4 linked regions of the Homo sapiens genome follow. The protein of the gene in region 4 interacts with the protein of the main gene of each other region in a pairwise test. Each region holds a gene or a part of one and is shown on either strand. Other genes may lie near its edges.

Region 1 (7,570 bases), on a different chromosome or scaffold from region 4:
GGAGTTCGAGACCAGCCTGGCCAACATGGTGAAACCCCGTCTCTACCAAACATACAAAAATTAGCCAGGCAAGGTGGTGCACACCTGTAATCTCAGCTACTTGGGGTGCTGAGGCAGGAGAATCGCTGGAACCTGGGAGGCAGAGGTTGCAGTGAGCTGAGATCATGCCACTACACTCCAGCCTGGGTGACAGAGCGAGACTGTGTCTCAAAAAACAAACAAACAACAAAAACAAAACTGCCCAGTGGCTTCCTACTGTGCTCAGAATTAAATCCAAATGCCCATCACGCCCTGCAGGTCCCCAAATGATCCAATTCCCCCATTAGAAAGTAAGTTCAGGAAAACAGCAATTTTGCTTGTTTTTTTTTGTTTTCTTTTTTTTATTTTCTTTTCCACTGCTATGCCCGCAGGGCCTGGCACACATTAAGTACTCAATTAAGCAACAGCCGAATGCACCTGGCTATCAGATGGCCTCGTGCTGGGATGGGGGGGATGCCTATGTCACCTCCTGCCTGACATCTATAAGACACCCTCAGGGTTCAGTCGCATCTGCTGTTCATTTACAGTGTAGACTCACGGTTTTTTGCAGTGGGCAGCTGTGAGGACCCACAGTGGATGGATAAGGACCCCACCACAGAGCAAGTGGCCCGAGGTGTAGAGGGCAGCTTGGTAGGGGTGAGATGTCTTGTCGCAGGGTCCGCCATGCACCAACTTATTCTGCTCCTCTGCCCAGGCTGAGGGAGAGAAGATCTGAGTCAGAGAGGAGTTCTGGAGAAACCAAGCGCATCCCCCTCAACATGAACTCCAGTCAAGATTGGTCAGGTGCAGTGGCTTATGCCTGTAATCCCAGCTGAGGCAGGAGGATCGCTTGAGCCCAGGAGTTTGAGACCAGCCTCGGTAACACAGTGAGACCTCATCTCCACACACACACACACACACACACACACACACACACACACAAATTAGCAGGGTATGGTGGCATACGCCTGTAGTCCCAGCTACTTGGGAGGCTGAGGTGGGAGGGTCACTTGAGACCCAAGAGTTCAAGTCTGCAGTGAACTATGGATCATGCCACTACACTCCAGCCTGGGTGACAGAGTGAGACCCTGTCTCAAAAAAAAAAAGCTTCTCTGTATTTCCACTCCCAAACTTACCCCATTCCCATTACAAACCCAACTGTATCCCCTATTCCCGGGCTCTCTCCAACTTTCCAACCTACCTCCTACCTCTTCTATGTTTAGATCCCCATCCCTAAAGCCAACCCCACCCCAAACCCTCATATCTTCAAACCCACCTCCCACCACCCTCCCTATCTGTATTCCCCACCCTTAGCCTAATCCCCAACGTCTTCCTCATTTCAAAGCTCCCCCACCCCAACCCTGTGCATATCCCCATCCCCAATACCAGCCTCTTCTCCATCAACAAGCCCAACCCTGTCTGCAAGCCTCCCCCATCCAAATGCCCTTTCCCCACCTGCAGCAATCAGACTCAGCACCACCATCAGCTTCTTCATGGCCGCTCCTGAGAGGGGAAGCCACATGGTCCATTAGTCACTGCCTCGACCCTCCCCCCATCCCTCTGTCTGCTCCCTCTGCATCCTCTCCTTCCTTCCTGGCCTGCTATGGTCTCCTGCCTTGACCTCTGTCCTTCCCATCTAGCCTCCTGATTTATTCTTCCTCAGCCCACATCTTCCATCAGAGGATCCCACGAAAACAGTGCCAAAGAGAATTCAGAACTACGTCCACTGGTCCAGTAACCCATGGTGAGATTCTGATTAGATCTTTCTACTTTCTTGGGCACTGATTTGCCTTCCTGTCGACAGGAGAGGGTTACCCTAGGGGGCCCTAGCGTTCTTCCTCTGTATGGGAGTTTTCCTCGGAGCCTGGCTCTGTGCGCAATGGCCACCCACCCCGCCCACCCGGCAGGTTCTGTGATGTCTGTGATCTCACCTGCTGCAGGCCTCCGGGCTCCGGGGATTCTTGAGTCGGGGGAAGGAACAGCTTTGAGACGAGGAGGCAGAAAGAGTTAGAAATGCGGGGAGCCGTGAGGAGAGAAGACACTCAGATGCAGTGGCAGAGCCAAGCGGAGGACGCAGGGGCCGCAGAGCCCAGGGCTGCAGGGACTGCCAGACACACACCCCCAGCTCCCAGGCCTCCCTGGAAGAGGCTGGTTCTGTCCCCAGATGCTTCTGGAACGTCCTTTTAACCCCTGTCTCTCAGGTCCCTGAGCCAGGAGACTGGCTACACCCTTTTCCTCCTTACCCAGGCCTCCCACACACATTCCTCCCGCCCCCACGCTCTGCTCTTGGTGACCCCTGACCAGGCCTCCAGGGAAGGGAGCACTGGTCCCTGAGTGCAGTGAGGGCCTGGACTCCTGGGTCTGAGGGAGGAGGGGCTTGGGGGCCTGGACTCCTGAGTCTGAGGGAGGAGGGGCTGGGGGCCTGGACCCTTGCGTCTGAGGGAGGAGGGGCTTGGGGCCTGGACTCCTGGGTCTGAGGGAGGAGGTGAGAACTTGGACTCCTGGGTCTGAGGGAGGAGGGGCTGGGGGCCTGGACTCCTGAGTCTGAGGGAGGAGGTGGGAACTTGGACTCCTGGGTCTGAGGGAGGAGGGGCTAGGACCTAAACTCCTGGGTCTGAGGGAGGAGGGGCTGGGGCCTGAATCTGAGGCAGAGGAAGTTCTAGTCGGCTCAGTCCTTAGACCTCCGGGTTTTGGAGAAAGAAAGTGTCTGAAGACAAATTCCGGCCTCTGGGGCAAGCAGATGGTGCCCCAGGCCTCCCTGCACCCCCAGCACTCTCTGTGCCACCCAGGGACCTGCAGGCCCTCACTCCGGGCTCTAGAGCCCTCCGGCACTGGGAAGCAGCCTGCCCAGGTTCAGTGCGGTTGGGGTGACTCACACACCTGCCCGTAGGTCCCTCTGTGTGCTGCCTGCCGACCTCTGTGTCCCCAGGAGAGAGCGAGCCAGCCAGCCGGGGAGACAGCTACAGCGTGTGTCACCACACTGGCCCCCGCCCCTGCCCCGGGCTGGGGAGCAGGCCCAGGCGCGATGGGGAAAGGGCCCAGGAACAATCGGGCTTTGTCCGCCCCCAGCACCCCAGTGCCATGCTCCCAGCAGCTCCGGCCTCAACCTCTCTTCCGGCGGGCAGGCGGGAGGGCGGTTACATCAATGGCTTCCTTTTGTCCCTGTCTGACAGTCCTCCTTTGCAGTCTCTGACTGCCCACCTGGCCCTGACTGGAGATTTCGGCACTCCACATCCTCCTGGTCCTTCTCCTCCAAGTCTGCCCACCCCTGAGGTCTCTTGCTCCATCTGTCTCCCTGGCCATGGAGGGGAGGGAGCTTCCATCTCTCTCTCTCTCCCATCTCAGTCTCTGTATTTGTGTCTCTCTCCCTCTTTTTTTCTCTCTCTCCCTTCCTCTCTCCCTTCCTCTCTCCCTTCCTCCCTTCCTTCCTTCCTTCTTTCTTTCCTTCCTTCTTTTCTTTCTTTCTTTCTTTTTTTTTGACGGAGTCTTGCTCTGTCACTCAGGCTGGAGTGCAGTGGTGTGATCTCAGTTCACTGCAACCTCCGCCTCCTGAGTTCAAGCAGTTCTCCTGCCTCAGCTTCCCAAGTAGCTGGGATTACAGGCACCCACCACCACGCCCGGCTAAATGTTTTTTGTATTTTTAGTAGGGAAGAGGTTTCACCATGTTGGCCAGGCTGGTCTCAAACTCCTGACCTCAGGTGATCCACCCACCTTGGCCTCCCAAAGTGCTGGATTACAGGTGTGAGCCACTGTGCCCGGCCTCTCTCCCTTTCTTTCCCCTTGATTCTCTGACTCTCCGTGCTTATCTTCTCCTGGGTCTCTTCTTAGATTTCCCCGGGGGTAGCACTGTGTGTGCCCAGAAGGGAGTCAGTTTCCCCAGGAAGTAGCGGGGATGATTCCCGAGCGATGAGGAAGCTAGCAGGATGGAAGAGGACTTGAGGACTTATTGATGAGATGCGGACACACAGCGAGAGGCATGGAGTTAAGCAGAAATCGGAGAGCACTTGGGAACGACGTGGGGCTGTGATAAGATGGTGGTGCTGGGCAGTAGCAGAGGGATCTGGGAAGATTTAGGGAGGTGTCTTTGAACTTGGGCCTAGAAAGCTGAGCCAGGCGTAGGTCAGGAGGAAAGGCCGTGAAAATGCCTGGCCTGGGTGCACATGGGAAACCACAGGCAGTGGTTGGGGTGGTTGGTATGGGCTGGAGGGTGAGGGTGTGTGCGTGGCAGAGTGGAGAGAAATGAGGAGGGGGAAGTCACTGCGTAATAAGGACAATGATAGGAATGAAGTCTGGCTCAGCACCTGCTTGGGCTGGGCACTACAGGTAACTTAAAAAAAAAAGTTCTTTTTTCTTTTGAGACAAGGTCTTGTTCTGTCGCCTAGGCTGGAGTGCAGTGGCACGATCCTTGCTCGTGGCAGCCTCAACCCTCCTGGGCTCAAGCGACCCTCCCGCCTCAGTCTTCCCAGGAGCTGGGACCATAGGCATGAGCCACTGTTCCCAGCCAACCCTTTTCTTTGTCTTGCATTGAATCTAATTGTCATCTTGCATTGTGCACCCCCCATCACTCCAGGGATGAAGACTACTTCGGTATTCAGTATACTCTCCGGGTGCTCCCTCTCACATTTGGTCCCCACTGACCTCAGCACCTTCTTCTCAGGACGTGCTATCTTCACAGACAGCAAGTCTGATGTTGCACAACCCAGTGACCAGGCCCTATCCCTCTGCCTCCTCTCTCTGGGGGGTCCCTTCCTCTCTGTACCCACACCCTCAACCCCAACTCAGAGCTGCACCTCTCCCACCTGGACCAGGATCCCTCTGTTCTCTGTATCCCTTGCCCCAGAGAGACCTTCCTGTGCCTTGTGCTGACCTTGCCCCTCCTCTCACAGACGTGCCCTGGGTCCCCATCTCCCTTGGGACCAAGTCCCAGCCCCCCAGCCTGGCATTTGAGGACCTTTAGCATCCAGGGAAGTCCTGGCCAATGAAATGTGATGCCAAGCACGCATGCACATTTACATTTTCCAATCACCATACTTTTTTTTTTAAGTCAGAAGATTTTTTAAGTGTCCTTACCACAAAAAATAAGGGTGTAAAATAATGCATATGTTAAATAGCTTGGTTTAGCCATTCCACAACATATACATACATATATCAAACATGATGTTATACACCAGAAATATATACAATTTTTACTTGTCAATTAAAAAATAAATTTAAGGCCAGGCATGGTGGCTCATGTCTGTAATCCCAGCACTTTGAGAGGCCAAGGTGGGTAGATAGCTTGAGTCCGGAAGTTCATGACCAGCCTGGGCAACATAGTGAGAAACCATCTCTGCAAAAAGTAAAAAAATTAGCCAGATGTGGTGGTGCACACTTGTAGTCCCAGCTACTCCGGAGGCTGAGGCGGGAGAATTGCTGAGCCTGGGAGGTCGAGCCTGCAGTGAGCTGTGACTATACCACTGCACCCCAGCCTGACATGGCTGGGCAAGGTGGCTCATGCCTGTAATCCAAGCACTTTGGGAGGCAGAGGTGGGAAGATCACTTGAGCCTAGGAGTTCGAGACCAGCCTGGACAATATAGTGAGACCCTATCTCTAAAAAAAAAAACAAAAAAAAGAAAAGAAAAAAATTACCTAGGTGTGGTGGCACACATCTGTGGTCCCAGCTATGCAGAAGGCTGAGGTGGGATAGTTGCTTGAGCCTGGAGGCCCAGGTTGCAGTAAGCCATAATCACGCCACTGCACTTCAGTGTGACAGAGCCAGACCCTGTCAAAAATTTTTTTAAAAGGAGTCCTGAGTGGTGAGTGGCCCTCACACTGCATGACACAGCTATGTCTACGTCTCCGTGTGGCTCCAGCTTTCTAGAACACATCAAGCTTCCCTGACCCATGCCATGCCCTCTGGCCTCTGGCCCTTCACTGAATGCTATTCCCTCTTCTTCTTGAGATGGAGTCTCGCTCTGTCGCCCAGGCTGGAGTGATGTGGCGCGATCTCTCTTCGCCTGCTGGGTTCAAGCAATTCTCCAGCCTCAGCCTCCCGAGTAGCTGGGATTACAGGCACACACCACCATGCCTATATTTTTAGTAGAGATGGGGTTTCACCATGTTGGCCAGGCTGGTCATGAACTCCTGACCTCAGGTGATCTGCCTGCCTCGGTCTCCCAAAGTGCTGGGATTACAGGCGTGAGCCACCGTGCCTGGCCTATTCTCTCTTCTTAGCATGTTTTCCCCACCTTTTCCTGGCAATAACCTGTCCTTCAAGTCTTTACTTGGACATTACCTCCTCCAGGAAACCTTCCCTGAACACCACCCAGCTGCCACCTGCTGTAGTTGGATTACTCATTCTCTCACGTAGGTTCCCACAGCAGGTGTCTCCCTCAACCCAACCTGGACGGGGGGCCACCTGGATTGACATTCGTCATCTCTTCCACTGGACCGTGAGCTCCTTGAGGGCAGGTACGGGACTGACTCATCCCTGTGTCCCAAGCAACCACACAGGACCTTGCCCAGAAGAAGCCTTAGGCAAGACTGACCAAATGACTAAATGACTTTATCACACCCACTCCCATTTTACAGATAAGAAAACTGAGGCTCAGAACGGGAAGTTCATTGCTCATCATCAAACATCCAGGAAATGGTGGAGCCTGAATGGGAACTCAGCTTCCAACATGGCGTGGATGTGGCCCATCCCTTGGTGGCCTGGCTGGGTCTATCTTATGACAGTACGAGGTGAGTGAACTTGGGAGGAATTGTTGAGAGCTGGGTGGGGAAAGAAGGGAGGTGTTAGGCTGTGGGGAGTGGAGGGACTTTGAAGAGAAAGAAATTTCTAACTCTACCTCTTCTCTGGTGACCTTCATGGTTTGCCATCTCTGCATACTTTGAATGCTTATTTACTGGATAGTTTGCTCCAGATTGTCTTGCTCTGCAAAACTCTTCACTAAATAAATTCTTCTGTCTCGGTGCAGTGGTTCACACCTGTAATCCCAGCACTTTGGAGGGCTGAGGTGGGAGGATTACTTGAGCTCAGGAATTAGAGACCAGCCTGGACAACATAGTGAGACCCCGTCTCTACTAAAAAAAAAAAAAAAAATCAGCCCAGGCATGGTCCCAGCTACTCGAAAGGCTGAGGCAAAAGGATTGTTTGAGCCCAGGAGACTGAGGCTGCAGTGAGCTATGATCATGCCACCAAACTCTAGCCTGGATGATAGAGCAAGACCCTATGTGAAAAAAAGAAAAAAAAAATTATAAGGAAACTTCATGAGACTGTAAGCAGAAAAAAGTGCCAGAAGTCATAAACAATAAAAACCAATGCCTGGGCCAGGCGCGGTGGCTCATGCCTGTAATCTCAGCACTTTGGGAGGTCAAGGCGGGCAGATTGCCTGAGGTCAGGAGTTTGAGGACAGCCTGGCCAACGTGGTGAAACTTGGTCTCTACTGAAAATACAAAAATTAGCCGGGCATGGTGGCAGGCACCTGTAATACCAGCTACTCAGGAGGCTGAGGCAGGAGAATCACTTGAACCTGGGAGGCAGAGGTTGCAGTGAGCTGAGATCGCGCC
Region 2 (7,023 bases), on a different chromosome or scaffold from region 4:
AATACATTTATTATTTTAAACTATCCAGTTTGTCGTACTAGGTTCAGCACCCCCTAGGAAACTAACAGAGTTTCCTAACAAGAGTTCCTAACAGAGTTGCTAACAGAGTTGGTCTGGGCCCAAGCAAAGAAAATGACTTCCTAAATTGACCCAGGACATTTCACAAGCCCTTAAAAGATGGTGTGTCGTCTAAAGTAGAGGGATTCCTTAATATGACCTACTGGTAAAGGTCTTTAATTTTATTAAATCAGTCTCTGCTTATCCAAAAGGTCTTTAATTTCAATAATGAAAAAAAAGAAAGCAAAGCACTTAGGAAACCATAAAACACTAAACAAAAAAGGTATTACTTAAACCAATCTGTAAGGACAGAACCTCCAGAGGGAAAAGGCCAAGTTCATTGGGGAAAGTTATCAATAGCATATTCAAATAGACACACTTAAAATGGATTGAGAAGACTGAGCAGTGGAGTATCAGAAATCATGAACAATGATGGTTTATTTGGGGAATTAGTGGTTCAAGGACATAAGCAGCAAGTGTAATCATTATTACAGGTAAAAATCAGAAAACGTGCCAAGTTCTCACAAAGTAAAACAAGCAATTGTCTGAGTCCTCCCTACCCCCAAGCCCCAGACAAAATAAAAATACCAGCTCACTCTTAATTTCTCCATTTCCCTGTCCCCAGGACCCCTACTCTTCTGCTACAAACCCTTAACACAGGCAAAGTCTCTCCTTTGCCTACCCACTTCTTTCTTCAGTGTGGTCTTTGGCTAACAGCTATCCTGACCATTCCCCAGGGGTGCTGCCTCCACTCTGGTCAAGCCAGGGTTCTCATTATTCATCCTCACATATTCATTAGTAGTCTCCATACCTCTCACTGTGATCTGCCCCAGTCTACCATGAATCTACAATCCATGCTCCCCTTAAATCCAGCTGAACACCTATAACCCCACTAGTTTCCTCCTCCAGTAAGTGCCTTTAAACACTTACATACATTTTCTTACGGAAAATAGAGACTTTGTAAATATTTAATAACTTAGTCTTTTTTTGCCCACATCAGAGGGTCACATGTCTATGTTGTAACAAGGTTTGAGGGTGGCACATCTCACACCTGCATGTCAAAACCCAATCATCACACTTATGAACTACAAAAAGATGAGTAACTACTTAGTCTTTTAACGAACAACACTTCTGAATCAAAATTCCATCCCAAATATTCTGATAAATTTCAGAATGCTTGAATCCTCTAGAATGACTTGCGTTTCTAGAGCAATATTCAATAAAACAAAGCATAAGGCAACAACAGAATTTGGAGAGCTCCTTTCATCTTGTAGTAATTAAACTAAGGCCATTTGGCATTAAAATACAAATAATATCCATAAGGAGTCACAATATACTTCCTCCTGTGACTAACAAAGCTGCTTCTGTGAAACTGGCAAAGATACACCAAGGTAACTTCCCAGAGTATATCATTTAAAGTGAGTACAAATCTGAAATACATGTATGTATAATACAGAATGCTTGCATAACACAAAAGGCGGTATAATTATTAAACCCAAGACATCTGAAGTTTAGTCTGAGCTAGCTATGTGACCTTAAACAAATCACAACCTTTTTGGACATCCAAAGTAAAATAAGCAGGATTAGCCCAAATGATCTCCAAGGCCTCCTTCAGCTCCAATGTTCCATGATTTCGTTTTTCCTGTGCACCAATAAAAGGTGTGGCAGGGCTTCCTACTAACGTGAAGTTTGGGTGTATCTGTAAGCATATTCTTTCTCCATCAGGAATAAGCTGCCAAAAAAGGCTACTGGGCAGTATTTATGATGACACCTTCACAAGAAAAATCATTTACTGGGAGTATTAGTGTTTATGTAAAAATCATCTGGTTGCCTGCCAGTCTGAATGAATCACTATCAGCATTAGCTGAGGGTGACTAACATATCTCAGCAAGCAAATATTGTTCCTAATACCCCAGCCAGAGCCTAACTAGGAAATAACTGGATACATTTAAATACAGTATTTTTTAATACTCCTGGGTTATAATTCAGTTAACAAAAGGAAACATGAAATGAAGATGGCTTACTACTTGACCAGATAACTAAAGAAAACTGAGTTTTTCCCAGACTGGAAAATTATAGACCCATGTAAAATCAGACAGTCCATTAAAACAAAAAGATGGATAGCCAATCTTGATGGATGATACTTAGCACCAGTTCCCAACACTTCAAATACCAAAATACAGGAGCCAGGAGAACTAATGAAAAGTTCAGTCATAAACTGTACTGAGAGGCAAACACCGGGTGGCAACACAGAGTAATGGATGCTCTCCAGGCCCCGACCATGCTACCTAAGATCATCTGCAAAATCTAATGAAATCACATTTGCTGCATCTCCACAAATCAGGAACATGAAGCAACAACAAGACAGAATTTTACAGACAGGCCTAGACAATAGTTTTCAGCCTCTTTCCGCTCTAACACCAAGATTACAACAGTCATTTCTGCCACACGGCACCTTCCCTCAGTGTAGCCACACTAGGCACTGAGTCTTCACCGGGCCACAAACCAGGGGTTTCGCCACCCCTGCTCACAGCCTCTCTGCTTTCTAGGTGTCCTGCCTGCCTTCCCACCCTCTGTAATCCTACTTACACCCTTCCTGAAGGACAACCTTAAACTGATGGGCTCTTCCCATGCACAAAGGCCCTCCTCTCCATTTCTTTTAAGGATTGGACTTCCCTGTCAGCCAGTTTTACTCACGTCCTGACCAAACAGCCTTTGGCTACACCTAGTCCCCACCCCAGGGCACTCACTTCACACATTTTCTCTGCTCCAGGACTACCCCCAACATTACTAAATGTCAAAAATGACCTGGCCTGCTGATCATTCACTTATCTTCCTATGACACTATTCATTTACCCAAAAACCCCTAAGGGCCTCCACCCACTACTCACAAGGCAAAAAACTATGTGTGTGAGTAAAAATAGATCCACTGCCAAAAACAGTACAGGGACTATTTAGGAAAATTTAAAGTTCTCAATCTGGGAAACATCCAACATCAAAAGTAACACTGAGCAAACAAAAATGCCACCCCCGAGCTGCCAGGCCATAGCTGCCTAAGTTAGGGGTAATGCTACCTCACTCGAATATGCTGCCATCCTTCACAGCTCCACACATGCTATGGGCTCATCCTTTATAGCTACCCACACCTACATGCTATCAACCAGCTTGCTTTTGATATGAGTAAATGATTCTCATGATTAAGTAAACATAACCACATCATAAAACCTTTAAGCTTCTTTGGCAGAAGTGTGTGTGTACGTGTATGTGTGTGTGTCTGTGTGAGAAAAGTCAGTTTGAGGGTTTGAGGGGCCAGGTGTGATGGCTCACACCTGTAATCCCAGCACTTTGGGAGGCCAAGGCAGGCGGATCACTTGAGGCCAGGGAGTACGACACCAACCCAGTCAATATAGAGAAACCCCATCTCTACTAAAAATACAAAAATTAGCTGGGCATGGTGGCGTGCACCTGTAATCCCAGCTACTTGGGTGGGACATGACAATCGCTCGAACCCAGGAGGTGGAAGTTGCAGTGAGCCAGGACTGTGCCACTGCACTCCAGCTTGGGCGACAGAGCAAGACTCTGTCTCAAAAAAACAAAAAATGAGCTAGAGGGATGAAAGCTTGCTGAGCTCTTTCCCAAGTTAATGCTTAGGAAGTGAGGATCTTGCCTGGCCTGCCCCAAGCTGGAAAGATATCCACCAACAGACCAAGTCCTACAGGCCACTGGGCAAGAACATCACCAGCCAGGGTCAGGCTGAGCCCCTTATCCTCACCAGGATGAGGCTGCAATTCTGTAAGACCACAAATAGGCTAAACTTCAAGCTCAGAGCAGGCAAGTTCGGGTAAGTAACATCCACTCTAAGCTAAATTTTAGTCAAATAAAACAGCTACCCTTGTATAGCCAAGAGACTGTTTTTGCCTTGCTTTTGACATAACTGAACATTTTCATGGGGATTGGCAAGGATTAAATACAACACCATCTGAATGGCATTACTGCATGCTACTGTCCCTAGAGGCATCCGAATTGAAGGCTTCAGAAGCTGTGCCAGGTTCGGATCATTGGAAGTGCTAACACTCACCACCGCAGAAGGGAATGCCACTGCAGCCAGGAGTAGGGGCGGGAGGAGCACCAAAATGCTGGGACAGAAGACAAGCTGCCTCCACTTGGACACTAGGAGGAATTTTACCAGCAACCTAGAGACAGAAATTTTGGGGCCTGCATAAAAATATACTAAAGGGTGCAGGGAGAAAAATACATTAAAGGCAATATGGAGAAACAACTGGTGCCAAGAATATGAAATAATTTCTTAAAATACCCCAAATAAAATGTAACATAGTCCTGCACTTCTTAACTCAGGAGAAACTCAAATTCAATACTTTGTTAAGCAAAAAAAAAAAAAAAAAAAAAAAAAAAAAAAAAAAAAAGGCCTCCAAGCCTTCAGAACAAGCAAAATCCAGATATGTGAGTTTCCCTCTTATGTTTCTCTGTTGTAGCTAAAACCCATAAATGGCAGATTGTTCTTAATCGTATTTGGAAAAAAAAAATGACTTGCACCCAACAGATAAAATTATTTGTTTAGTAAGCCCACTTATGAAGAGTTCTTGGATTTCAGTCACCAGTGCTGACAATGGTTAATATACCAGAATGTATACTAGACATATTATCCCTTTGCCTCATGGGGCATTGTTACATAGTGGTTAAAATGAGAGCTCTAAATTTGAGTTTGAATCTTGAATTCACAACTTACTAGCTGTTTGACCATGAGAAAATCAACCTCTGAAAGTCTCATTTGTAAAGGGGAGTAACAGTACCTATCCTGAATTGTTAAACAAGAATGTACACATGGAAGGTGGCGGGCACCTGTAGTCCCAGCTACTTGGGAGGCTGACACAGGAGAATGGCGTGAACCCAGGAGGCGGAGCTTGCAGTGAACCAAGATCCTGCCACTGCACTCCAGCCTGGGTGACAGAGCATGACTCCCCCCCCCACCAAAAAAAAAAGTACACATGGACTAACAGCTACCGTTTACCAAGTGCCTAAAAAGTTAAATAAGTTCTAACCAAGCGCAGTGGCTCACGCCTGTAATCCCAGTACTTTGGGAGGCCGAGGCAGGTGGATAACCTGAGGTCGGGTGTTCAAGACCAGCCTGACCAACATGGAGAAACCCCATCTCTACTAAAAATACAAAATTAGGCGGGCATGGCATGGTGGTGCATGCCTGTAATCCCAGCTACTTGGGAGGCTGAGGCAGGAGAATTGCTTGAACCCGGGAGGCAGAGGTTGCAGAGAGCCGAGATTGCTCCATTGTACTCCAGCCTGGGCAACAAGAGCGAAACTGTCTCAAAAAAAAAAAAAAAAAAAAAAGTAAAATATGTTATATAAACTTGCTAAATGTAACACACACACACATAAAACGTTAGGGGTACCCTCTCCGAAACCGTATTTCTGGAAAAGTGTGACGCTACAGTCTGTCACTGATATAAAATCCCAGACAAAGACCAACTAAAGAAAATCCCCACCAAAGAAAATACATTTTTGGTTTCTTTAAGGGAGTCAGTTCCGGACTGTGGAAGTTCTTCTGGGGATAATTCAGGGACCCAAACCCACATGGGGACTACAGTTTCTATTTCAGTGCAAGAAAGCCACGTAAGCTGTTTGCCCACCTGAAAGGACCTTTTAAATTCAAACTATTACAAGAATAATCCAGAGCCTTCTTCCTTCCTCAAAGACGATTACATTTTAAATGCCCAGTTAGTGGGAAACATAGCTCCCTAGTTTTTACATATTTCAAACTGTAGTATCAATGTGGCTTTAAGATTTCCTACTGGTTGGGTGTGGTAGCTCACTCCTGTAATCCCAGCACTTTAATAGGCTGAGGCAGGAGGACTGCTTGAGGCCAGGAGTTTGAGACCAACTTGGGTACCATATAGAGATCCTGTCTATACAATTTAATAATTAGCTGGGCACGGTGGCATGCATCTGTAGTCCCAGCTGCTCAGGAGGTTCACTTGAGCCCAGGAGCTCAAGGCTACAGTGAATTATGATCGTGCCACGACTGCACTCCAGCCTGGGTTCCAGAACGAGACCATCTCTTTAAGAAAAAAAAAAAAAATACTAATCACACCTCAAAATCCTCCTACTCTCTGTGACACTGATCTGTCTCACCTGGGGCAGTCAGCTGTGCACTTTTACACAGCACCTGCTCATTTCCCCACTTCCCAGAATCTCACAGTTGTTGCAACAACAGCCTTTTGCCAGTGGTTGGGCCAAATGCCCCTCCTCTCCGACTCCTGTTTCCTTAAACTGTAGTTTTGTTTCCTGCACTTAAGATTTCTAGGGAGCCGCTGTGGCTCAGGCCGGTTGCCCTGGCACTCGGGGAGGTGAGGCTACACGTTCGAGGCCAACCTGGTCAACACTGATTAAAAAAAAAAGATTTCTATATATATATTCTGCAGGTACTTTAAACGTGTTTCTGCCCGTTTTCTGTCAACACTGTAATCAACTGGTGTATCAGTGTTAAAACACAATGCTAGCCCAGTAATTTTTACATTTGATAACTTTACAGTTACCATCTATGTTTTAATATAAAATAGATGACTTAGGGCCATAATACATGATGAAATTATGTCTGTCTATGAATATCCACCAGAAATCTATCTGGTTATTTTCCCTCTTTCCTTAAATCACTTAGTCTTCTGGACTAACATTTAATCCCACTTTATAGGTTTATTTCAGTTATCAAATGGTATTTACAGAGACTACGAATTGTGTAGCCTAGAATTGCCTAGCCTAGAAAGGACTTAGGTTCTAGAATCTTTCACAATATTTCTTCCCACTATTATACTCTATGCAAGCTGGTAGGTATGAGATAGAGCTTGAAGATACTCCTTTATGCTTCACTTCAGAAACATTTCTTGCTTCTTCAAATTATGGAGAGAAGCAGGGAAGAGAAGTTCTCAACAGGTT
Region 3 (7,704 bases), on a different chromosome or scaffold from region 4:
TCGTCCTATCTACCATAAGTTTTGGGTCCCTTAATCGTTTTTTCGTCCTTCCCAATTGATTGAAAGATATTCAACAAGTTAGTGGCAGCATCAGACTAAAAGCTAGGACTCTTGATTGCTGAGTTACAATAATAGTTCAACCAGAATTAAAGTCTGCACTTTCCATATTTCCATCCTGTCACAGCCTACAGTGCCTTCTCTTCTAATTCTTAAGTAATCAAAAGAACTTAGCATTTCCTTTGTTTGGTTATTTAAATACAACTTAGCAGGACACAGAACTTATTTCTGCTTTGTTACTATTCTGTACTAAAAGCAAAAGAGAAAGACTAAGGAAAATTGTAAGAAAACCTAATAATTGGTAACATTACTATGTTGTAAATATAATTTATATCACTGAATTTCTTAGAGGAAAAACAGTGTAAGGAGGGGATGGAGGAGGGGAATGATGATAGTAGAAGCAGTTCAGGCAATGCTACCAAAAAACTTAAATGGGATTTTCCATTTAGAATACCTTTTTAAAGTTTTTGATCATTTAAAATAGATTTATTAACACAATTATTTTGTTTTGTTCCATTATAATTACATCCCCCAAGAAATACAAATTAACACACTTATCCATTTCCAAAAAGCTCAAGATTGAGAAAAATTCTCTTAAATGAACTAGTTGTCATTTTCAGTACAGTCCCCAGCATATAAATTTATAAGGAATAGCAAATAAAGATGAAAAGAAAGTACATCATTAAATGCTTTGGTTTACGCTAAAGCTACCTTTAATTAAAACCGCCAATCACAATCCTAGGGGACTAGCACTTAGATTAAGAACAGGGGTAGCCCATTGCTAATCTAATTCCCTGGGCTTCCCCCTCGCCACTGCCCACCATCTAGGCCTAATAATACTCATTTTCCTTCTAAGTACATGAGACTTTTTTTTGTCCTAGTAATTTCCTTTGTCAGCTTCCTGTAGTTTGGGGCTAGGTTCTGCTTTCACCTACCCTATTAACATCAACATAACTGGTGGCAGATGAAAAGTAACAATCTCATACAGCCTTTTTAGAAGAGCATTCAGCTGGAAGCTCTGAGCACCATGTTCTGCTCTCATCAATGTCCATTGTGATCAGCTGTGTAGTCTTTGGTAACTCTTTGAAGCTACAGTTCACTTCAAAGGATTATTATTAGGAACAAGCAAGACAATGTGTAAGTGGCAAGGATTATGGGAGACAGTCAGTGTAGTATGAAGGCTTTGGAGACCAAAGACTCTGCCATACAATAGCTATATTACTTTGGGCAACCCTGTTGCTTTCTCCTCATTTACATAATGGGAATAACTTGTCTACCATGCCTGTCTCAGACAGATACTTTTGAAGACATTATTGAAGAAATTATAAAATGTCTGACACATAACAAGCTGTTAATAAATGATTTACCTAAATGCACTATACAAATTTAAGCCCTATAATTCCTTAGTAAAGATATAAAATTCAAACAATTCAGAAGTGACTGGGGCAAAGAACTCAGGTATACTAACATTCTATTCTCCTTTAAGATTTATTGCTCTTTTTTCCCTCTTGTTTTTAAGGTGAAACCATTTGGTATATTAGATGAAATCGTCACAGTGCACATTTAGAATATTATGAATTTAAGACTAAGAAATCACCAACACAAACCACACATTTGCAGTTTTTTGCAAGTGAATTTTTTTAAGTTTCAACATTAACATTTGTATTTTGCATTAAATTATTTTAAATAGCATTACACTAGCCTATACAAAATTTGTTATTGACCTATTTGATATTTGTGTGCTTATGGAAATGGAAAAGGTTTTTAATCCCAAACCACCATCATGACACAAGAGAAAGAGAGAGAGGAGAGAGAGAAAAAGAGAAAGGGAACACATAGTTGTGTTGAAAGTAAATCCAAGAAATCGCAAGTAGCCTTAACATTACCATCCAGGAAAGTCTGTTCAAGATAATCAATGATCTGAGTGGCCTCACAAATTATGTTTTCCCCGTGGATAAGGACAGGCACTTCTCCAGTTGAGTTCAAACGCATAAACCAAGGCTCATTGTGCTCACTCAAGGGCAGACTTACATCATGTTCCTCGCACTTCAATGCCTTTTCAGCAATTACCAAGCGCACCTGGAAGAGTTCACACTGGTTACTACAACACATGTAAGCTTTCAATTAAATGACTTCCCTGGACACCGCTAAGCAGCCTTTCTGGGCTTCCCTGTGTTACCGACATTTTCAACAGTCGTTTTAACAATTCCTATTCCTGGAATTAACAAGTAAGGAAAGAACAATACTCAACAAATTAAGAGAAGAACACAAAATAAGTAATGAAATGATTCTGACTGTATTCATTAAACAGTCACCCTCCTCATCACTACCACTTTCTCGGTGTCCTAAACCTGATTATGGGTCCTCCCCAGACAAGAACCTGACATGTAGGTACATCAGCTCTTGCTGAAGACAGTGAATGCGAGAGAGCAAAAGAAGAGATCGCAGATTATGAGGGTCCACAAAGGCACCTCCCTCTGCCTCTCTCCGAAGACCAGCAGGCAAGGCCTCCAGACCAAATACTGAAAATGATGCTTTTTTGTCGCATTTCGCGAGAGGCGGAGCCTGGGCCATAGCCACATAGGATCATCTCCGATCGATTCTCCCCGCTCCCCACCCGGGCGCGTCCCCGCCTGGAGGGAGCGCCTGCCCGGGGTCAGGACACTGGAGGCGGATTTCTAGGTGGACCGGCTTCCCTGGGCGGGACTCAGAAGGAGCTGTCCCAGTGCTGAAGCCCGATCCGCGCCACCCTCCGCCGCCAAGGCCTGTTGTACCTTTTGAGAGCTGAAGGAATGCGTCCAATGGTACAGAATGAGCTTAACCTCCGCGTCGGCCTTGCCTTCCGCCCTCAAGGGCGGGCTCCCTCTCTGCTCTTCCTGCCTCTCAGCCATCTTGGGGTGCGCGAGCACGGGTGCGCCCAGCCTGTCCGCCCTGGACTTCTCCCTCCCACACTGCCCCGCAAGGCGTTTCCGGGTTTTGAGGGGTACCTGCCGGAAGGAGGGCGCGCGGCCCGCTGGGAAATGTAGTTTCGCCGGCGGCAGAGTCTGCGAACACGCGGGGTCTGCGACTGGAAAGCCCCTGGCAAGCCTGGGAGTGCACCTGGGAGGTGCAATTGAACGGTTGTTTTTTGGGTTTGTTTTTTTTTTTAGAAGAAAAAATAAAAAATATGAGACCCTGGTTATGAAGGGCAGTAAGGAAGAATGATGATAGCAAATTACTCTTCGGTTTGGAGGTTGCTCAGGTATAAAAGCAGCAATTTCCCAAGATACTGAGGGTTGCTCTTGGAGCCTGTTCCTTTGTTGGAAAGGAAGTTCCGGTCGACAAGCAAAGCAACAGGAAAAGGATCTATGAGCTTTCATTAGAAGATGCTACTATGACATTAGTGGACTAATTCCACAAATTTGACTAACTGCTGTAGATTAGAGAATAGTCTTGTATAAACAGTAAGTACTTGATTTTGATAATTAAACTGTGCTTTGTAAAAGAAAAAAAAATACCACTATGGAGTCATGCAAAAAAACTGTTTTTGTCATAAACAGCTAATAAACAATGGCGATATAAAATAGCCTAGTTGTTAAACACAAAAATTCTACAACAGTACTGCCTAAGTTCATATCCTGGTTTTTCCATTTTCTAAGTAAGAATAATAATTTTATTGTTTCCCTCATAAGATTTTTGTGAAAAATTAATAATAAAATGTTAAACACTCAGAACACCCTGTCACGTTGTAGGCACTCAGTCTTAGTCACAGGTTCAGTTGTCTTATAAACATTCTGTTATAACCATAGTCAGAATCATAATTTTATATTAGTCTAGTTATTATTGTATGTCTTTAAAAATTTGGCATCATATAGTAAGTTGATTTTAAAAATCTCTTTCAGTAATATGTATAAATATGACCATAGAATAAATGCCTGTATAATTTATCTGGCAAATATTTATTGAGCACCTACACTGTTCCAGACATTGTGCTGGCTCCTGGTAATATAAAGATGTGTGAAATCTAATATCTAACACTCAAGATATAATCTGGCAGTAGAGACGACCAAGGAAATAGACAATCACAATAAAGATGAGAACTGTCTTAGGGTGAACACAGAGTACTATGAGAAAGGAGGGGCAGGCAGCCAACCCAGGTCAGAGAAGGGCCCCTGGAAAAGACAAAATCTCATGAGGTTCTTCCTTGCCTTTACAGTACTTCATTTGTTACTCTCTGTAATTCTTTCATAATTTTTTAAGATTTCATAATGTCTTTTATATCCTTCAGTTAATTCAAGTGCTATAGAAAAGGTGAATTCCTTGCCAAAATTGTTTTTATCAGTTCACACTTAAGAGTAAGAGCGGAAAGAGGAAAACTTTGAAATCGGACAGAGTGGGGTTTAAATTCTAGCTCTACCCTAACTTGAGCTTTCTTGAGCTTTGACTTCATTGTGTGTAAAAAATGGATACATAAAAATTATATGCCTACCCAGATGGCTGTGGGAATTCAAGAAAGGATATATATAAAGCACCTAGGGTATTGCCTGGAATGTAGCCATTGATAAAAACATATGTGTAAAAGCCCCTTCACTGACATTAGGAGGGCATTATATTACATTTCATCCTCTCTCTGTAGGTCTCAAAATTTTTACAACTACCCATATAATCCTCCTCTCCCATTCCTCTTCAGAACTTCATTTTTTAATTATCCACCTTCAGATTCCTAGTTTTCTATTCCATTACCTTCAATAGCAAACACCACGCTTACTTTTGCACCAACCTTAATACTAAATCATCCTAAATATTTGAATAAATTCCAGTACTCGTGATAAGCCATGTGTCACCTGCAGCTGAAAAAGTCCTGACAATAAAGCCCTGGTCCCTCAAACACAACACTTTTCTCCATCACATCCTGCCCACAGCAAAGCCATAGAAGAAACACTGAATGACTTGATTACTTGGTGTTTAGTACAAAGCATTCATAGATCTCATTGGGAGTGTAAACATGCACAGAACTTCTGAAGGCAAATGTATCAATATGCTTCAAGAATCGTGAAAATGGGCATAACTTCTAACCTAGAAATTCCTCTATTTGCAATTTAAGGAAATAATTCTGACAAATTCTGACAGTTGATCCTACCTATTTTTCCCTTCTTCCGTGGTAATAGAAATTTTAGCTGAGCACATGACTGCTGAGAATAAAGACTGTATTTCCTAGGCTCTATTGCAGCAAAACATGGTCTCCTAACTATCTTCTAACAAGGGGAAAGTCATGGATGTGCCACAGGGCAAGTGCTGGGAATCTTTCTTAAAGAGACAATTAGCCCTGTGCCTCTTCTTCATCCCATCCTCCATCCTGCTTCAGAGAGGATGGATTCTGACCTGGACCATGAAGAATGGGGCCACGCCTTAGGAACAGCTGGGCCATGAACTTGGGGAAAATTGAGCTTCTAAAGACACTGAGGAGCAGAACCCACACCAACTTGGGTCTGCAAACCTCCAAACTTTTACTTGAAAAGGAAAAAAAGGATCTTGTGTAAGGCACTGTTATTTGGTGCTTTCTGGATGCTATTGTCTTAACCTATCCTCATCAATACATCAATCTTGTAAAATATAGGTGGCTTTTATTTCTTTATGATTCTGTATACTCTAATTGTTTTATAATGAATGTGTGTTGCTTTTACCTGTTAAAGGTGTGAACACTAAAAGAATATCATTAAATAGATGACATAAGGAAAAATGTGTTTGTTTTATCACAATAGAACTGCTACATCTACTTCCAATGATCTATAATCACTTTTTTCCCATCCCAATAAAAGCCACTGTTGGTAATATAAAAACCTTATTATCCTTTCACATGTTTATTCAGAGCTCCTACTACACTGTGTATTCTGTGTCTATGGTTTTTGTAGATCATAGACATGATCATTGTGGGCTCCTTGAGGACAGGAGCCAGGTCCAGGTAAATTTGTTTTCAATATACATTTTTTGAGCCTTAAGTGCTAGATAGAGAAGATACAGAGTTCAAAGTCAGTCACAGTCACTGGCCTTAGGGAAATCAAGTGTGAAGGCAGAGAAATGAGATCCCAACACAGTGTGGTACTTGCTGTGACATCTAGAAAGTTATAGTAGGAATATAGAGAAAGGCACCTAACACAGATAGGCTTCCCAGAAGAGGTGATAATCTTTACCATAACTAGTACCATACTAACACAATTACCATTATATCCAGGGTGGTGCCCCCACTGGCTCATGATAGCTGATTGTTAAATTTTCAGGAATTTGCAAAGTGGATGTTCAACTCAGCTATTAATCAAAATTAAATCAAACTGAGTTGCATTTAAATGAATTATTTCCGCCGGGCACGGTGGCTCATGCCTGTAATCCCAGCACTTCAGGAGGCTGAGGTGGGCGGATCACGAGGTCAGGAGATCAAGACCATCCTGGCTAACACGGTGAAACCCTGTCTCTACTAAAAAATTAGCCAGGCGTGGTGGCGAGTGCCTGTAGTCCCAGCTACTCGGGAGGCTGAGGCAGGAGAGTGGTGTGAACCCGGGAGGCGCAGCTTACAGTAAGCCAAGATCACGCCACTGCACTCCAGCCTGGGCGACAGACTCCATCTCAAAAATAAATAAATAGATAAATAATTTTAAAAATAAAACTAGCAAATACTTAAAACTCATCACTTCCTAATTATGTGTATTATTATCTATACTCCTGAGTTTATTTGTGTCTATCATATCCATACAAGGCAAACAGTATATAAGGATGTGCTACTTGCATATCTCTTCCTCTCTGTTCAGTGATGTCATGTTAGTGACTTGAAATTGGCCATGGTAGAACTATTTACAGAAATCGGTAAATGCTATCATGTTTAACTTTTTCCCAGAAAGTTGGTTGTTAAATATTTACTACTATACCATTGAATGTATCTATCTTATTTAGTATTTAATAAATTGTTTTGATGAGGAGAAAGAGAACCCTGGGTAAATTTGTGAATGAGTAAATTTGCATACTAATTTGCTTTCGGTACCTTTTACTTTCCTAATCAGCTTTTGCTTCCTTCTCCATTTCCGAGACACCCACTATGCTTATTATTTTTTCATTCTCTTCACTATCCTTAGGAAGAACATGGATATGCACAGGTCAATCTGCCCACTATCAAACACTGAGCACTTTCTCTAGCACATATTCCCAGCAGCAAAACCATGAACTAGTAAACACTGATGAACTGATGACTGCACTGATGTTCAATATTAATACTTTATAAAGAAAAGGTATAAAGTAGAACGTCTGCATCTAAAGATCGCAAATGGCTTTCTTACAATCTCATTTGATCTTCATGATAGCCTGTGAGGTAGCTACCATCCCTAAATTAGAAGAGCTTCCACTACAGTTATAGCTAAAGAAATGAGGTTTAGTAAGTGAAATACTAGTCCAAAATCCTGGAGCCGGTGACAGAACTACATCTCAGACACACATTTTCTGATTACTAGTCAAGTATTAGCTTCTACTACACTATGCTAGCCTTAAACCAAAGAGAGAAAGTTGTGGACTTGCAAACTTTAACCAGCCTGAGGTGGACTTTGGAGAAAAATACAGCCACCTTATTGAAAATGAGTCCATGCAGATGGATACTGTTCCATTAAAGTCCTTGTCAAAATGCTG
Region 4 (7,023 bases):
TCAGCACCTCCTCCAAATATTTATTGAGTATAACACCATCATGAACTCAATTAAAGCATTTGTTTAAGGCAGCTTCAGAATATCTGCATGGACTTAGTCTGCATCTTATTCAAAAAAATTCTTCCAGTTGATTTTCACTTACTAATATAGAAATATTGGTTATTAGAGCCCTCAAAAATATCATTGTCCAACTAACTCAGTTTACTCAGAGCAGCTAAGAGCTAGAGAGCTCTGTCCAGAACTACAAAGCTAATTAGAGACCCAGCCTGGGAAGATACTCAGACTTTTTGATATTTGCCTGGTGCTCTTTCCATAGTGACAACAGAAAGAAAAGTGGTACCTTAGTCTCAAGCATTTTAAGTCATCACGTGTAACATAGTAGAGAACATCCAATAGTGTATAATCTTCAGCCAAAAACTGTAGAGAAAGTAGAATATGCACAAAAGATGTTTTATATAACTTTAATAAAGCACAAACTCTATTCATAATGTAAACCTTGACTATAATTAAAAATGAATCTAAAAATGAAATCTACTAAAAACACAATCTTCCAGGATTATTAGGGGAAAGGCCTCCCTGTTACTCAATAAATACAAAGAAATGCATCCAGGCCGGGCGCAGTGGCTCACGCCTGTAACCCTAGCACTTTAGGAGGCTGAGGCAGGCGGATCATCTGAGGTCAGGAGTTCGAGACCAGCCTGGCCAAAGTGGTGAAACCCCATCTCTACTAAAAATACAAAAAATTAGCTGGGCGTGGTGGCGTATGCCTGTAATCCCAGCTACTTGGGAGGCTGAGGCAGGAGAATCGCTTGAACCCGGGAGGCAGAGGTTGCAGTGAGCTGAGATTGACCCACTGCACTCCAGCCTGGGCGACAGAGTGAGACTCCGTCTCAAAAAAACAAAAACAAAAACAAAAACAAAAACAAAAACAAGAAATGCATCCATATTAACTTCCAAATGCAAAAAGATTACAAGTGACACAGAACTTCTGAATGGTCTTCTAATGAACAGATGAGACTCACTTGTAATCACTCTGCTGTTCAAAAGCAAATCTTGTATTTAGAAGTTCAATGCTACATAGCTTTGTTTTTCCTCAAGTGGATAAAAAGTGTTCCTGGAAAGGTACTGCCTATGCTTAATTTCTGAACTTATTTTTTCATGGTTAAGCAAAGGCACTTGACTGTAATTCACCATAAAAGCAGAGTCTTAATTTAAACTGCACCTTTATATTTTTAAATTTTATTTATTTTTTTATATATAGAGACAGTCTCACTATATTGACCAGCCTAATCTCCAACACGTGGCCTCAAGCAATCTGCCTATGCTTCCCAAAGTATTGGGATTACAGGCAGGAGCCACTGCACCTGGCCTCAAGCTTTTACTTTTAAACCAAATAAAAAGGGTGATTATTTAGTAGATTATCAATTACTATTCCTTAATTAGGATTTGAGCCTAAGTTAGAGGAATGTATATTCTGGAGTTGTTTAAATTTATTCAGCTGTAACTTGTTAAATGTAGATTTCTAAGGCGGCCCGAAATTCTACTTAGTTAATAAATTATCAAGTCAAAAGAAGAGATATCTTTATTCTTATTTATTTTTAAAATTTAAATATAAAACAAAACAATATTGTATTAAGAGGGTCTTTCTATCAAATATTACAATGTTTTAATGTATGCCTGTGTGTTCATATAATGAACATAAACAAATGCTATTCACGCTCATTACAAAAGTCTATAGGGGCTGGGCGCAGTGGCTCACACTTGTAATCTCAGCACTTTGGGAGGCTGAGGTGGGCAGATCACTTGAGGCCAGGGTTCGAGACCACCCTGGCCAATATGGTGAAACCCTGTTTCTACTAAAAGTACAAAAATTAGCCAGGCTTAGTGGCATATGCCTGTAATCCCAGCTACTTGAGAGGCTGAGGCAGGGAATCTCTCGAGCCTGGCAGGCAAAGATTGCAGTGAGCTGAGATCGCACCACAGCATTGCAGCCTGGGCGACAGAGTGAGATTGTGTCTCAAAAAACAAAATCAAAAAAAGTCTATACAGAGCAGAGAGGAATTAGATTATTACAGGTAAAATATGGTTTGTATAGAAAATATTTCTGAAATAAGTCGACCAGATTGATTTTATTAAGTAGCAATAAAATAGCTGCTGCCCAGTGGAATCTAATAATGTTGAAAAAGAATTAAAAATTTAACAAACAGGCCTGGCGTGGTGGTTCATGCCTGTAGCCCCAGTACTCTGAGAGGCTGAGGTGAGAGAATCGCTTGGGGCCAGGAGTTTAAGACCAGCCTGGGCAACATAGCGAGACCCTATCTCTAAATTTTTTTTTTAATTAGCTGGGTATGATGGTTCATGTCTGTAGTCCCAACTATTCAGGAGGCTAAGGTGGGAGGATCACTTGAGCCCAGCAGGTCAAGGCTGCAGGGAGCTATGATCACTGCCCTCCAGCCAGGGTAACAGAGCGAGACCTTGTCTCCAAAAAAATATAAAATAAAATAAAATAAAATAAAATAAAATAAAATAAAATAAAAATTAACATACAAAGAATTAGAAACAAGAAATTTTTTCTTTTAGTCCTGTCTTTATTTTTTTCCCACTCTTTCTGGTTTTCATTTCAAATACATAAAATTCCTAAGGGGCTCAGGACCACAGAGCTTTTGCCTGCCTCGTTGGATTGTACACACTGCAGCCCCACTGCACAAGGTTCTTCCCTGGTCTCCCTCCCACACCCCTCCTGAACATACATACAATTGGCCTATTTATACCCTCACATTCTGTTAGCCTTCAGCTCTTTCATTCCCTTCTCCAACAACCTTCCCCAACCTCTCTCGCCCTATCTAATAAACACCTGATACCTTTTTCTTCATAGAATTTACCAGTGTAGAATCACATTTGTATCTGTGGAGTTAGCTGATTATCACGTGCCTACCCTGGTCTGTAAGCCTCAGGAGGGCAGGGCTGGGTCTGATTTGCTCACCAGTGTATCCCCTGTGCCTGTCACATAGCAGGCACCCAACATTATGAAACGAAGTGAAAGAATACTTGTCCCACAGACAGTTTTCTTTACCCGGCTTATAGTGTCTTCATCAGCTCCATTCACTCTCAGCCAGTCGGTAAGTTCAGAATCTTCAGTATTTGTGCCAGAAGAATTTAGATGAAATACAGGCAATTCAGGAATTTCTAGAACAGAATTTTGGGAAGATATTCTTAATTTCACCTAACAGAGGTCATCTGAGACCCTCACAATCAACAGACATTTATTGATACTTTAAAAGATTTTGCTCTATCAGAGAACAGTTCATAGAAACAATTGAGATTGGCAGTATAGATGATAATATGAATAAAACTCAGAGAAGTGAATTTACTAGTAAATAAGGAGCAAAAGCAATAATGAAATGACACTCCTACGTTACACTTTCATATCAATTTTATGGTTTCTTAGAATAAACTCTGTGCACCAAAATTAGACTTTGTGTTTTTCATGCAATAAAGATGAATACAATTAGCAGAGAACTATATAATTATCATAATCTCTTTTTCCACTATGAAAGAGCCACATATCTAAACAAATAACTATGAATTCTGTTTTCCTCTAAATGGGCTAAATAACATTCTCCCCAGCTATGCCTTTTTACTACTACATCTTTATTCTATTTAAGCCTCTTCAAATTATAAGGAAAAAGGCTAGAATACACAGAATATAAATGCAAAATGACAAAAAATAGTATTATTTATTCTAGTAAGCTCATTGTGAAATCTTTAAAAATAAAGACTAAAAACAGAGAGCCCTGTTTACCTCAGTAATACATAATCTCAGGAAAAGATGATTATGAATAATCTATTTTTACTGCACTTATAAGAAATGAGTTTGCTACAGTTAAAAACTGGATTTTTTTTTTTTAAAGGAATTCCTGCTTGCAGTCATGGTAGAAGTGAGAAATGCTGACTTAGCCACAAATAAAACTTCCTGTTGGCTTTCTTGGCTTTTTGTGGCAGCCTGGCTGAACAGTATTACTATAAAACTTTCTGCTATTCACCTATGGGTTGGGACTTAAGCTTCAGGTGTTTAATTTCTTGGTCTTTTTCTTCAATAGCTCGATGAAGGAGTGCTTGTAATTCTTTCTCTTTCCGAACCAATTCTTCCAGTAATCTGCAGAAGAAAAATATATTGTTTGACAGGAGGTGACACAGGGTGACCTTCTTTTTTTTATTTTTATTTTTTTAGATACAAGGTCTCTCTCTGTTGCCTAGGCTGAGTGTAGTGGCCCAATTATAGCTCACTGCATCCTTAAACTCTTGGACTCAAGCGATCCTCCCATCTCAGTTTTCCAAGCAGCTGGGAATACAGACATGCACCACCATGCCTGGCTAATTTTTTTTTTTTTTTTTTTTGTAGAGACAGAGTCTTGCTATGTTGTCCAAGCTGGTCTCTGAACTCCTGGCCTCCAGTGGTCTTTCCACCTCAGCCTCTCAAAGCTCTGGGATTATAGGTGTGTGCATGTGCCACTGTGCCAGGCCTAGGATGACCTTCTAGACATGAGCTATAATAAGCACATACACCCCTAATTTTATTGAAATACAGATACTGGTCCAGTGCCCCGGGGGTGAGTTCTGAGACTGTATTTATAATGAGCTCCCAGATGACACTGATGTTGCAGGTTCACAGACCCTCAGGTCCAGAAGCTAAGCTTTGGAAGACTGTGCTTGCCGACAAGAATTCAAAACCTCCACCACAGATTGTCTGCCAAAATCTTCAGAGATGTGTCCTGATATTTCTTGTTATGACCATAAATGTCAAAGATATAAATATGGGATACAGATATTAACAGGCCTATATTTTACATGTATGGACCCCCATTAAAAAAAGTTGGCAAATGTGCATAATTTCATAATCAATGCAAATCAGAAAAGTAATCACTTTTTGTAAACTATGAAAATTTGAGAAACAGTCATAGGTGAGGTCGCCTAGAATATCTGGCATATAACAAATTCTCAGTAAATGTTCACGGTTGTTGCTACAATTGTGATTGTTACTATTATTCCTCTTCCTTCTAAGGGGGCGGGGGTGAAGTGGGTAAAAGGATAGCTGTGTTCCTGGTACATTCAGTTCCTAGTTGGCATCTGATGCAGTCTCCAAAGAAACAAGGAGAAACTGTGATATTCATACCAAAGTTCTTACCCATAGAAGGTTCACTATGCAACTGAGAGCCAACTGGTAACCTACTCACCATTTCCAATAGAATTTCTCAAAGAAAACATTCCAAGTTATGAAAAGAGGTGCTCTAATTTTTTAGAAAAGTATCTTAATGTAAGTTGGATTCAGAAATAATAATTTAAAATATATCGTTATTAAGATTATCAGGATAAATCGTTGCATAAACTACAGCTCTTAACAAACTCTATTTGTTTCATTTTCTGAGTATTGATAGATTTAACTCAAGAGTTTGTTTCTGCTTCACTTGACATAATCTGAAGGCAGCATCGTGCAACTGACAGATCTGGGCTTGTGTCCTGGTTCAACCCTGCACTTCCTGTGTTAACCTTAGATAAATTACCTAATGCCTCCAGGCTTCAGTTTTCAAATCATTTGTAAAAAAGAAAACTAAAGCTTCCAGAAAAGATTATTGTGAGCATTAAATGAGACAGCATAGGTACAGTGCCAAGTCAGTGTCTGGTCTTTAATAAGGGATGTTCTGTTCCTTGCTACCTCAGTCCCTGGAAAAGAGCCTTTCCAGGACTCAGTGGGAAGGAAACCTTCCCAGACCCCCAGGCTCGACCCCATTCCCACAGGACATAAAGATGAGATCCTCAGAGAGAAGGGATCACAGCAGAGTAGGTAGCAGAGGTGGGACAAAAGTAAAACACAATAAGAGGTAGACAGAGAAGGTGGGTGGAGGAAAATAAGTTAACAAAGACAGCTGCAGGGTAAGTGTGGTGCACAATGAGGTGGATGAAGCAGCATGAACTGAAAGCTAGAAGAGGGAGCACAGGGTCTTGGAGGGAGGCTTCTTATCTCTTTCAAAACAAATATTATCCAAAGAAATGGGCAGGAAGCTCTGTGTGAATGTTTAAGTTGGCAGTTTTTTGATCTGGTATGTATTTTTGTCCTACTTGCTAATTTATACGTATAAGACAGTGATGGTATCTTCTTACTGTTTTCTCAAGGAACACAGTGATGTTTTCTAGAGTTTAACCTATGTTTGTCTAGACTATGTAATTTCTTTTTATCTTTTGTTAAAGTGAATGAAATATGGCCTGAGAAGGACTCCGTACTTGCATATTTGAGTCCTCGTGGACAAACTATAACTTAACAGGTAGACAAGATTGAAAACCTAACTTAGGAGTATGCGTCTATAACAATAGCTGAGTCTTGGCTAATCCCAGGAGCCATACTTCAACCACTCATACACTGCTGAGTGTTCAAATAAGGTGAACGCCAACCCATAACAAATCCAGCTCTTTCTGCACACTTCTGATTTCTGTACGTCACTTTACTTTTATTTTCTATAAATTTGTTCTGGCCACGAGGCATCCCTGGAATCTCTCTGAATCTGCTGTGATTCTAGAGGCCACCTGATTCACAAACTATTTTTTTCTTTTTCAATTAAACTCCATTAAATTTAATTTGTCTGAAGCTTTCTTTTAACACCTTAAACACCAGAACTTCAACACTGGAAGCAGAGTATTGACAGCCCACCTCATTTGCTCCGAATCCAGCTCTTAGAAGTATTTATCTTAAGAACAATCCAGTACATCAATTTTATTTTTATTTTGTGTTTATTTAGCAGGGCAATATTTTGAAATCAAGGCAACTGTCTGCCTTTCTGTTCCAAAAAAGTATGGCAGGATCTGCCATGAGGTCAATTTTTAACCTTGGATGGGCAGGGGTGATGAGGTGGATTGGTGGGTAATTCCAGAACTGTAGGATGGGGAAATTAAATAAACAGGCAGCTCCTCTTGAGACAGGTTTTTGTTTTTGTTTTTGAGATAGGGTCTTGCTCTGTCACCCAGGCTGGA

Evidence for each region.
Region 1: the proteins of MAP3K5 (region 4) and KLK6 interact in binary tests that used the Homo sapiens proteins (3 or more experiments, as listed by UniProt).
Region 2: the proteins of MAP3K5 (region 4) and YWHAH interact in binary tests that used the Homo sapiens proteins (3 or more experiments, as listed by UniProt).
Region 3: the proteins of MAP3K5 (region 4) and GDAP1 interact in binary tests that used the Homo sapiens proteins (3 or more experiments, as listed by UniProt).

The regions. Positions count from the first base shown.
Region 1 is NC_000019.10:50,966,592-50,974,161, forward strand, and holds the start of KLK6 (kallikrein-6 isoform A preproprotein), read right to left. Parts: upstream 3,001-7,570; 5' UTR 2,899-3,000; intron 2,177-2,898; exon of another isoform or gene 2,001-2,176; 5' UTR 1,950-2,000; exon of another isoform or gene 1,926-1,949; intron 1,763-1,925; exon of another isoform or gene 1,682-1,762; intron 1,522-1,681; 5' UTR 1,514-1,521; coding exon 1,474-1,513; intron 906-1,473; exon of another isoform or gene 735-905; coding exon 578-734; intron 1-577. UniProt on the Homo sapiens protein: Serine protease which exhibits a preference for Arg over Lys in the substrate P1 position and for Ser or Pro in the P2 position.
Region 2 is NC_000022.11:31,947,535-31,954,557, reverse strand, and holds part of YWHAH (14-3-3 protein eta), read right to left. Parts: exon of another isoform or gene 5,406-7,023; intron 1,155-5,405; exon of another isoform or gene 1,052-1,154; intron 1-1,051. UniProt on the Homo sapiens protein: Adapter protein implicated in the regulation of a large spectrum of both general and specialized signaling pathways. Binds to a large number of partners, usually by recognition of a phosphoserine or phosphothreonine motif.
Region 3 is NC_000008.11:74,345,706-74,353,409, reverse strand, and holds the start of GDAP1 (ganglioside-induced differentiation-associated protein 1), read right to left. Parts: upstream 3,008-7,704; 5' UTR 2,949-3,007; coding exon 2,832-2,948; intron 2,139-2,831; exon of another isoform or gene 2,137-2,138; coding exon 1,944-2,136; intron 1-1,943. UniProt on the Homo sapiens protein: Regulates the mitochondrial network by promoting mitochondrial fission.
Region 4 is NC_000006.12:136,558,460-136,565,482, forward strand, and holds part of MAP3K5 (mitogen-activated protein kinase kinase kinase 5), read right to left. Parts: intron 4,157-7,023; coding exon 4,044-4,156; intron 3,187-4,043; coding exon 3,074-3,186; intron 418-3,073; coding exon 341-417; intron 1-340. UniProt on the Homo sapiens protein: Serine/threonine kinase which acts as an essential component of the MAP kinase signal transduction pathway. Plays an important role in the cascades of cellular responses evoked by changes in the environment.